2 separate regions of the Homo sapiens genome follow, and region 1 is linked to region 2. Evidence: fine-mapped expression QTL. A gene starts in region 2. The other region holds a variant in brackets. All regions are shown on one strand. Distances are between the middles of the regions. Region 1 has its middle 28 kb from the start of LINC02071. Region 2 holds the start of UTP18 (UTP18 small subunit processome component).

Region 1 (4,262 bases), 46 kb after region 2:
ACCAGACTTTTTCTCTCTGTACCTTGAGATGTAAATTTTGTTACCTGATTTTTCACCTAAGAGTTGTTTCCTTCGATATGCAGATTTAAGGCAATTTAGCTGACAACTGCCAGGGTAATGAAACAGGTTATGAAGAGTTTGCAAGTCTAAGACAGGAAAAAAAAAAAGTAGGTCTTATGAATCTATAAGATGTACTTCTACTGGTATGCCTAATATGTCTATGTAATTATGTATTGTGTACACAATGTTTCACTACTAAAAATATATAAAAGCTCTAATTTTCATTCCAAGATGGCTGAATAGGAACAGCTCTGGTCTGCAGCTCCCAGAGTGATCGACACAGAAGATGGGTGATTTCTGCATTTCCAACTGAGATACCTAGTTCATCTCACTGGTACTGGTTGAACAGTGGGTGCAGCCCATGGAGGGTGAGCGGAAGCAGGGCAGGGCATTGCCTCACCCAGGAAGCGCAAGGGGTCTGGGGATTTCCCTTTCCTAGCCAAGGGAAGCTGTGACAGACTGTACCTGGAAAAAACGGGACACTTCCACCCAAATACTGCACTTTTCCCAAAGTTTTAGCAACTGGCAGACAAGGAGATTCTCTCCCATGCCTGGCTCAGTGGGACTCATACCCACGGAGCCTTGCTTAAGGCTAGCGCAGCAGTCTGAGATAGATCTGCGAGGCTGCAGGCTGGTGGGGAGAGGGGTATCCGCCATTGCTGAGGTTTGATTAGGTAAACAAAGCGGCCAGGAAACTCAAACTGGGTGGAGCCCACTGCAGCTCAGCAAGGCCTACTGCCTCTACAGACTCCACCTCTGTGGGCAGGGCATAGCTGAATAAAGGGCAGCAGAAACTTCTGCAATCTTAAACGTCCCTGTCTGACACCTCGGAAGAGAACAGTGGTTCTCCCAGCACGGTGTTTGAGCTCTGAGAATGGACAGACTGCCTCCTCAAGTGGATGTCTGATCCCTGTGTAGCCTAACTGGGAGACACCTCCCAGTAGGGGCTGACAGACACCTCATACAGGCGGGTGCTCCTCTGGGACAAATCTTTCAGATGAAGGATCAGGCAGCAATATTTGCTGTTCTGCAATATTTACTGTTGTACAGCCTGTGCTGGTGATACCCAGGCAAACAGGGTCTGAAGTGGACCTCCAGCAAACTCCAGCAGACCTGCAGCTGAGGGACCTGACTGTTAGAAGGAAAACTAACAAACAGAAAGGAATAGCGTAAATATCGACAAAAAGGACATCCACACCCAAACCCCATTTGTAGGTCACCAACATCAAAGACCAAAGGTAGATAAAACCACAAAGATGGGGAGAAACCAGAGCAGAAAAGCTGAAAACTCAAAAAACCAGAGTGCCTGTTCTCCTCCAAATGATCGCATCTCCTCACCAGCAACAGAACAAAGCTGGATGGAAAATGACTTCGATGAGTTGACAGAAGTAGGCTTCAGAAGGTCGGTAATAACAAACTTCTCCGAGCTAAAGGAGCATGTTCTAAACCATTGCAAGGAAGCTAAAAACCTTGAAAAAAGGTTAGAGGAATGGCTAACTAGAATAAACAGTGTGGAGAATACCTTAAATGACCTGATGGAGCTGAAAACCATGGCATGAGAGCTTCGTGATGC[A/G]TGCACAAGCTTCAATAGCCGATTCGATCAAGTGGAAGAAAGGATGTCAGTGATTGAAGATCAAATTAATGAAATAAAGCAAGAAGACAAGATTAGAGAAAAAAGAGTAAAAAGAAATGAACAAAGCCTCCAAGAAATATGGGACTATGTGAAAAGACCAAATCTACGTTTGATTGGTGTACTTGAAAGTGACGGGGGGAATGGAGCCAAGTTGGAAAGCACTCTTTAGGATATTGTCCAGGAGAACTTCCCCAACCTAGCAAGGCAGGCCAACATTCAAATTCAGGAAATACAGAGAACACCAAAAAGATACTCCTCGAGAAGAGCAACCCGAAGACATATAATTGTCAGATTCACCAAGGTTGAAATGAAGAGAAAAATGTTAAAGGCAGCCAGAGAGAAAGGTCGGGTTACCCACAAAGGGAAGCCCATCAGACTAACAGCGGATCTCTTGGCAGAAACTCTACAAGCCAGAAGAGAGTGGGGGCCAATATTCAACATTCTTAAAGGAAAGAATTTTCAACACAGAATTTCATATCCAGCCAAACTAAGCTTCATAAATGAAAGATAAATAAAATCCTCTACAGACAAGCAAATGCTGAGAGATTTTTGTCACTACCAGGCCTGCCTTACAAGAGCTCCTGAAGGAAGCACTAAACATGGAAAGGAACAACCGGTACCAGCCACTGCAAAAACATGCCAAATTGTAAAGACCATCAATGGTATGAAGAAACTGCATCAATTAATGGGCAAAATAACTAGCTAACATCATAATGACAGGATCAAATTCACACATAACAATATTAACCTTAAATGTAAATGGGCTAAATGCCCCAATTAAAAGACACAGACTGGCAAATTGGATAAAGAGACAAGACCCATCAGTGTGCTGTATTTAGGAGATCCATCTCACGTGCAGAGACACATATAGGCTCAAAATAAAGGGATGGAGGAAGATCTACCGAGCAAATGGAAAGGAAAAAAAGGCAGGGGTTGCAATACTAGTCTCTGATAAAACAGGCTTTAAACCCACAAAGATCAAAAAAGACAAAGAAGGGCATTTCATAATGGTAAAGGGATCAATTCAACAAGAAGAGCTAACTTTCCTAAATATATATGCACCCAATACAGGAGCACCCAGATTCATAAAGCAAGTCCTTAGAGACCTACAAAGAGACTTAGACTCCCACACAATAATAATGGGAGACTTTAACACCCCACTGTCAATATTAAACAGATCAATGAGACAGAAGGTTAACAAGGATATCCAGGACTTGAACTCAGCTCTGCACCAAGCAGACCTAATAGACATCTACAGAACTCTCCCCTCTAAATCAACAGAATATACACTCTTCTCAGCACCACATCGCACTTATTCCAAAATGGACCACGTAGTTGGATGTAAAGCACTCCTCAGCAAATGTAAAAGAACAGAAATTATGACAAACTGTCTCTCAGACCACAGTGCAATCAAACTAGAATTCAGGATTAAGAAACTCACTCAAAACCGCACAACCACATGGAAACTGAACAACCTGCTCCTGAATGACTACTGGGTAATAATGAAATGAAGGTAGAAATAAAGATGTTGTTTGAAACCAATGAGAGCAAAGACACAACATACCAGAATCTCTGGGACACATTTAAATCAGTGTGTAGAGGGAAATTTATAGCACTAAATGCCCACAAGAGAAAGCAGGAAAGATCTAAAATCGACACCCTAACATCACGATTAAAAGAACTAGAGAATCTGCAAGAGCAAACAAATTCAAAAGCTAGCAGAAGGCAAGAAATAACTAAGATCAGAGAAGAATTGAAGGAGATAGACACACAAAAAACCCTTCAAAAAAATCAATGAATCCAGGAGCTGTTTTTTAGAAAAGATCAGCAAAATTGATAGACTGCTAGCAAGACTAATAAAGAAGAAAAGAGAGAAGAATCAAATAGACACAATAAAAAATGATAAAGGGGATATCACCAGGAATCAAATAATCAAATAGACACAATAAAAAATGATAAAGGGGATGTCATCACCAGTCCCACAGAAATACAAATTACCATCAGAGAATACTATAAACACCTCTACACAAATAAACTAGAAAATCTAGAAGAAATGGATGAATTCCTGGACACATACATCCTCCCAAGAGTAAACCAGGAAGAAGTTGAATCTCTGAATAGACCAATAACAGGCTCTGAAATTGAGGCAATAATTAATAGCTTACCAACCAAAAAAAGTCCAGGACCAGATGGATTCACAGCCAAATTCTACCAGAGGTACAAAGAGGAGCTGGTACCATTCCTTCTGAAACTATTCCAATCAATAGAAAAAGAGGGAGTCCCCCAAGAATTTTAAACCAATATCCCTGATGAACGTCAATGTGAAAATACTCAGTAAAATACTGGCAAACCAAATCCAGCAGCTCATCAAAAAGCTTATCCACAACGATGAAGTCAGCTTCATCCCTGGGATGCAATGCTGGTTCAACATATACAAATCAATAAATGTAATCTATCACATAAACAGAACCAATGACAAACACCACATGATTATCTCAATAGATGCAGAAAAGGCCTTCAACAAAATTCAACAGCCCTTCATGCTAAAAACTCTCAATCAACTAGGTAT
Region 2 (4,262 bases):
TTCTTTAGCTTCCTGTAGAAAAACATCTTCAGGCATGTAAGCCAGCACACTTGACACTGACCCAGCAAAGTTTTCGGCTAGCCCTCACTATCTCTCAACCCCCCTTCCTCCACTTCCCTGCTGTTCTTTCTTGGCACACAAAATATAGGCCAATGAGCAGTGGGTGGGTGAGGAGGATGTGAGAGAAAATTTGAGAAGTAAAAAAAGGAGCAACTTAACCAGGACATGAATGAGACTGAAGGGTCTAATAAGGGTAGGCAGACAACAATTAGAACTACTGAAATATGGGCTTTCCTGGGCAGTAGTGAGCTCTCAGTGCTTTTAGGGGTGTAAGCAGGGTTCAGACTACCTACCACTTGTCAGAGAGGCTGCAGAGGGGACGGCTGCTTTGGATGACCTCTAATGTCTCTTCCGACTCTGAAATGTTAGGATTCTTATTTCACAAAGGAGAACGCAATGGTCACAGAAGTCCACCGACTTGAAACCCTTTTAAATATGCAGCCTTGGAGGCTGCTTCCCAAACACCACTCCCACCTCTCCCGCACGTGCCCACCCCGCCCCCTTTCAATATTTCCACCTCCACGTGCAAACCGCCTCGCGGCACTGCCCCCAAGGCAGATAGACACCTTCCCCTGCAAAGCAACGAAACTGTGCTCCCCCTCCCCGCCAAGAAGAGAGGACTACTCCACTCTCCCACCCTGGGTGGCTAAAAAAGGAAAAGTCTCGGATCCAGCCTTTCCCCCCTAGCCAGAGCAGGGGGCGGGGGCAGGACGCAGAGAAAAACTTTCTTCTCGAATTTTTCTTCCAAAGGGTGGAGGAGATGGAGAGAACCCCAACGAGTCCAAGGCTGACGGGGTGGGGGGAGGGGAACCCCTGAATCGTTTAACGGCTGGAAGGGGGAGGGGGGCTCCGGAGGTTGAGAGGGCGTGGGATGGAGAAGCAGGCCAGGGAGCGGGGTCAGGGAGCTGCGGGGTTCCTGGGGTCGGAGAGCTGCAGGCGTCCCCCCCACCTGGCACACAAAGCGGCTGCCGCGCTCGGCTCTCACCAGATCCTTTGTGTTTTCCATCAGGGCCTCATGGGTAGGGGTTGTCCGTGCTCCCCGAGCCCGCGGCGCCCCCTCCCCGGGCTGGGGGCAGGTGCCTCTCCCCGGGACTGCGGCGACTACAGGGGGCCCCCGGCTGGGCCCAGACCGGTGGCGGGTGCAGCAGCCCCCGGATTTCCCCCCTTTAACTCGGGTGGCCCCAGGATATCAACAACATTAGCATAGCCCTCCCTCCCCAGCGCGCCTGCGCCGTGACCCGCGCCCCGATTGGCCCACTTCCCTACATACCCTCCTCTCTCGCTTCCACCGTGGGACCCTCTGCAGGCTCCGTACTCCAAGGACCGTACCAAGACGAAGGGTGGAAAGCGTATTGGGGCTTGTGTCAAGTCAAGTGGTTACAGCCAAGAGGAAAAGCAGAAGTTCCATTCAGCCGTCCCAGTGTATAGTCGGGGTTTCTTGCGCTCCTTTCAATATGTTGCAGCTGCGAAATTGTGTTGGAAAAATTTTCCACTCCAGTCACGCCGCTTCCCCCTACACCCGGAAGATTGGCCCTCCCGGAGGAACTCCCACACGGGGCGGGGCTGGGTAGGGGAGCGGGAGTTACGTAGAGGGAGGGAGTGCTGGTCACGTGGCAAGAGGCTGCGCAGGCTCCTTCCGGCCCCCGGGGCTTCGGCGGCGGCGGCCCGCGAGGGGCCTGGGCGCATGCGCAGCGAGGTTCCACGTGAGCGCCTGCGTTTCTCCTCAAACCTAACGATGCCGCCGGAGCGGAGGAGACGAATGAAACTGGACCGGAGAACCGGAGCGAAGCCGAAGCGGAAGCCCGGAATGAGGCCGGACTGGAAAGCCGGAGCGGGGCCAGGCGGGCCTCCCCAAAAGCCTGCCCCTTCATCCCAGCGGAAACCGCCGGCCCGGCCGAGCGCGGCGGCCGCTGCGATTGCAGTCGCGGCGGCGGAGGAAGAGAGACGGCTCCGGCAGCGGAACCGCCTGAGGCTGGAGGAGGACAAACCGGCCGTGGAGCGGTGCTTGGAGGAGCTGGTCTTCGGCGACGTCGAGAACGACGAGGACGCGTTGCTGCGGCGTCTGCGAGGCCCGAGGGTGAGGGAGGCCGCGGCGCGCGGGCTGGGCGCACTCGGGCGGGGCGCGCGGTGGGCGGTGAAGCTCCGGGGGGCGGAGCCTGGGCGACCTGCGGCGGCGGGGAGCGCTCAGGTGGGAGGGAGCCCGAGAACGCGGGCGCGGAGGGTCGCAGCTGCGGGTCCCTCGCCTCCCTGCTCCAGACTGAAAGTGCCTGGAGGGCGGGGACCGCGTCTTTCTCCGCCCCTGGAGGCGCCGCTGCTCGGGTATCTGCTTTGCGAACTGTGGTCGTGAGCATCTTTCGCTGCTGCTCGACTCCGCTAGCCTCTTCCCAAACTGAGGGTGGTCTTTTGATCACCTGCCTCAGTTCCTTGTGATTCAGGAATTCGATTTCGTTGATGGAATCAATTCGTGGGCACGGGCCTGGGCATCTCCGTTGTAACTATGTCCCCATGTGACTATGAGACCCACCATGTTTTGAGAATGATCGTGTATTCCGTTCATTTAGCAAATATTGGTGAACCTGTTAGTTGCCAGATACCCTTTCTGGCAATGGCAAACCCTGCGTGATTGATCATACTTTTTGCACACATTTTGCTATCCCTTTAAATTCTATACCAGGCTTTTCTTGAGAGAGTCCCGGACATTGTTCTAGGCACTGGAGGAGACACAGCAATGGACAAAACTGACAAAAATCCCTGCCTTTTGGCGCTTGTGTGCTAGTGGCAGAGACAAGATAGAGGAGATAAACGAGTAAACTTCAGGTTTGTTGGTGACAAGTGCTGAAGAGAAAAAAGGACATTCGGGAAAGGGAGATGGGCGTGTGTAGAGGCCTGTGAAATTTTAGATAAAGGGGGCAGAGGAAAGCTCACCGAGAATTACCCAGGCCATGTTTATTACACAAATGCTGACCTAGTTAATGTCAGCTGCTTACCAGAGCCGCCTTCGGGTGCTTGTAGGAGAAGTGGCAGCAATCTTTTTGGGAAGTACAGAACTATTACTGGAAACATGCTGAACTGTGCGACGGTTTTGTCGTCTGGAAAAGGAACAGTGTACGGAGGTGGGAGCTGTTGGGTTTGAAGGCTATTAGACTAGTAGTAGAGCAAGTAGAAACCACTTGGACATTTCTATCATTGGTTTTGGGAAGCTCAAACTCACTTCAAGGGATATTCTGTGGTCTAGGTTTAGATTTTTTTTTTTTTTTAGACTCGCCCTGTCGCCCAGGCTGGAGTGCAGTGGCGCCATCTCGGCTCACTGCAACCTCCACTTCCTGGGTTCAAGCGATTCTCCTGCCTCAGCCTCTGGAGTAGCTGGCATTACAGGCGTGCGCCACCACGCCTGGCTAATTTTTTTTTGTATCTTTAGTAGAAACGGGGTTTCACCATCTTCGCCAGGCTGGTCTCAAACTCCTGACCTCGTGATCCGCCCGCCTCGGCCTCCCAAAGTGCTGAGACTACAAGTGTGAGCCACCGCACCCGGCCTAGGTTTAGATTTGATAGTATAAACTTTATGGTATAAATTTATAACTTTAGAATTTAGATTTAATGGTATATTTATTTTTTACTTATTTAGAGATACGGTCTAACTTTGTCACCCAGACTGGAGTGTAGCGGCACCTATTAGTCTTCCATCTCCCTTTTGCTAATAGTAACTGGTTGCTCTTCTTGTTGGTCACAGATAAATTACACCTGCACAATTCTCCGAACACTTTAAACTCAGAAGTCAGCTTCATCCTCCTAGGCTCAAGTGATCCTCCTGCCTCTGCCTCCCAAGTAGTTAGCTGGGGCCACAGGTGCACACCACACACCCAGCTAAATTTAAAAATTTTCTGTAGAGACGAGATCTCCCTATGTTGCCCAGGCTGGACTCGAACTCCTGGGCCCAAGCAGTCCTCCCACCTTGACCTCCCAAAGTGTTGGGATTACAGGCATGAGGCATTGCGCTCTCTGCTGGTATAAAGTTTCTTAAGGAGGTAGGGGGTCAAAAACAGATTGGGAAAATGGAGATATCTTTGACTCTAGTTTGCCTCCGGTCCTGTAATTTCTGTAGTTCTGACATTTCTCCTCCTTTTTTCATCTGCAGACTCATCTTTTGTTCTTGTCTTACTTGGTGTTTTCCTTCCTGCGTGTTGAGTGTTGACTTTTTCTCC

What was found.
Region 1: its variant is fine-mapped to the expression of UTP18 in whole blood (TOPMed, PIP above 0.99).

Annotation. Positions count from the first base shown.
Region 1 is chr17:51,304,665-51,308,926 of GRCh38, forward strand. No RefSeq gene overlaps it. Among named protein-coding and RNA genes, the nearest start is that of LINC02071, 28 kb to the right of the region's middle. The variant A/G (reference allele first, on the strand shown) is at 1,634.
Region 2 is chr17:51,258,790-51,263,051 of GRCh38, forward strand. It overlaps UTP18 (UTP18 small subunit processome component), which reads left to right and starts at 1,757. Exons shown (of 14, transcript NM_016001.3): 1 at 1,757-2,137. The coding sequence starts at 1,796. MBTD1 (mbt domain containing 1) reads right to left here and starts at 1,260. Exons shown (of 17, transcript NM_017643.3): 1 at 1,046-1,260; 2 at 354-417. RefSeq lists silencers at 998-1,317, 1,658-1,767, 2,118-2,307 and an enhancer at 2,778-2,827.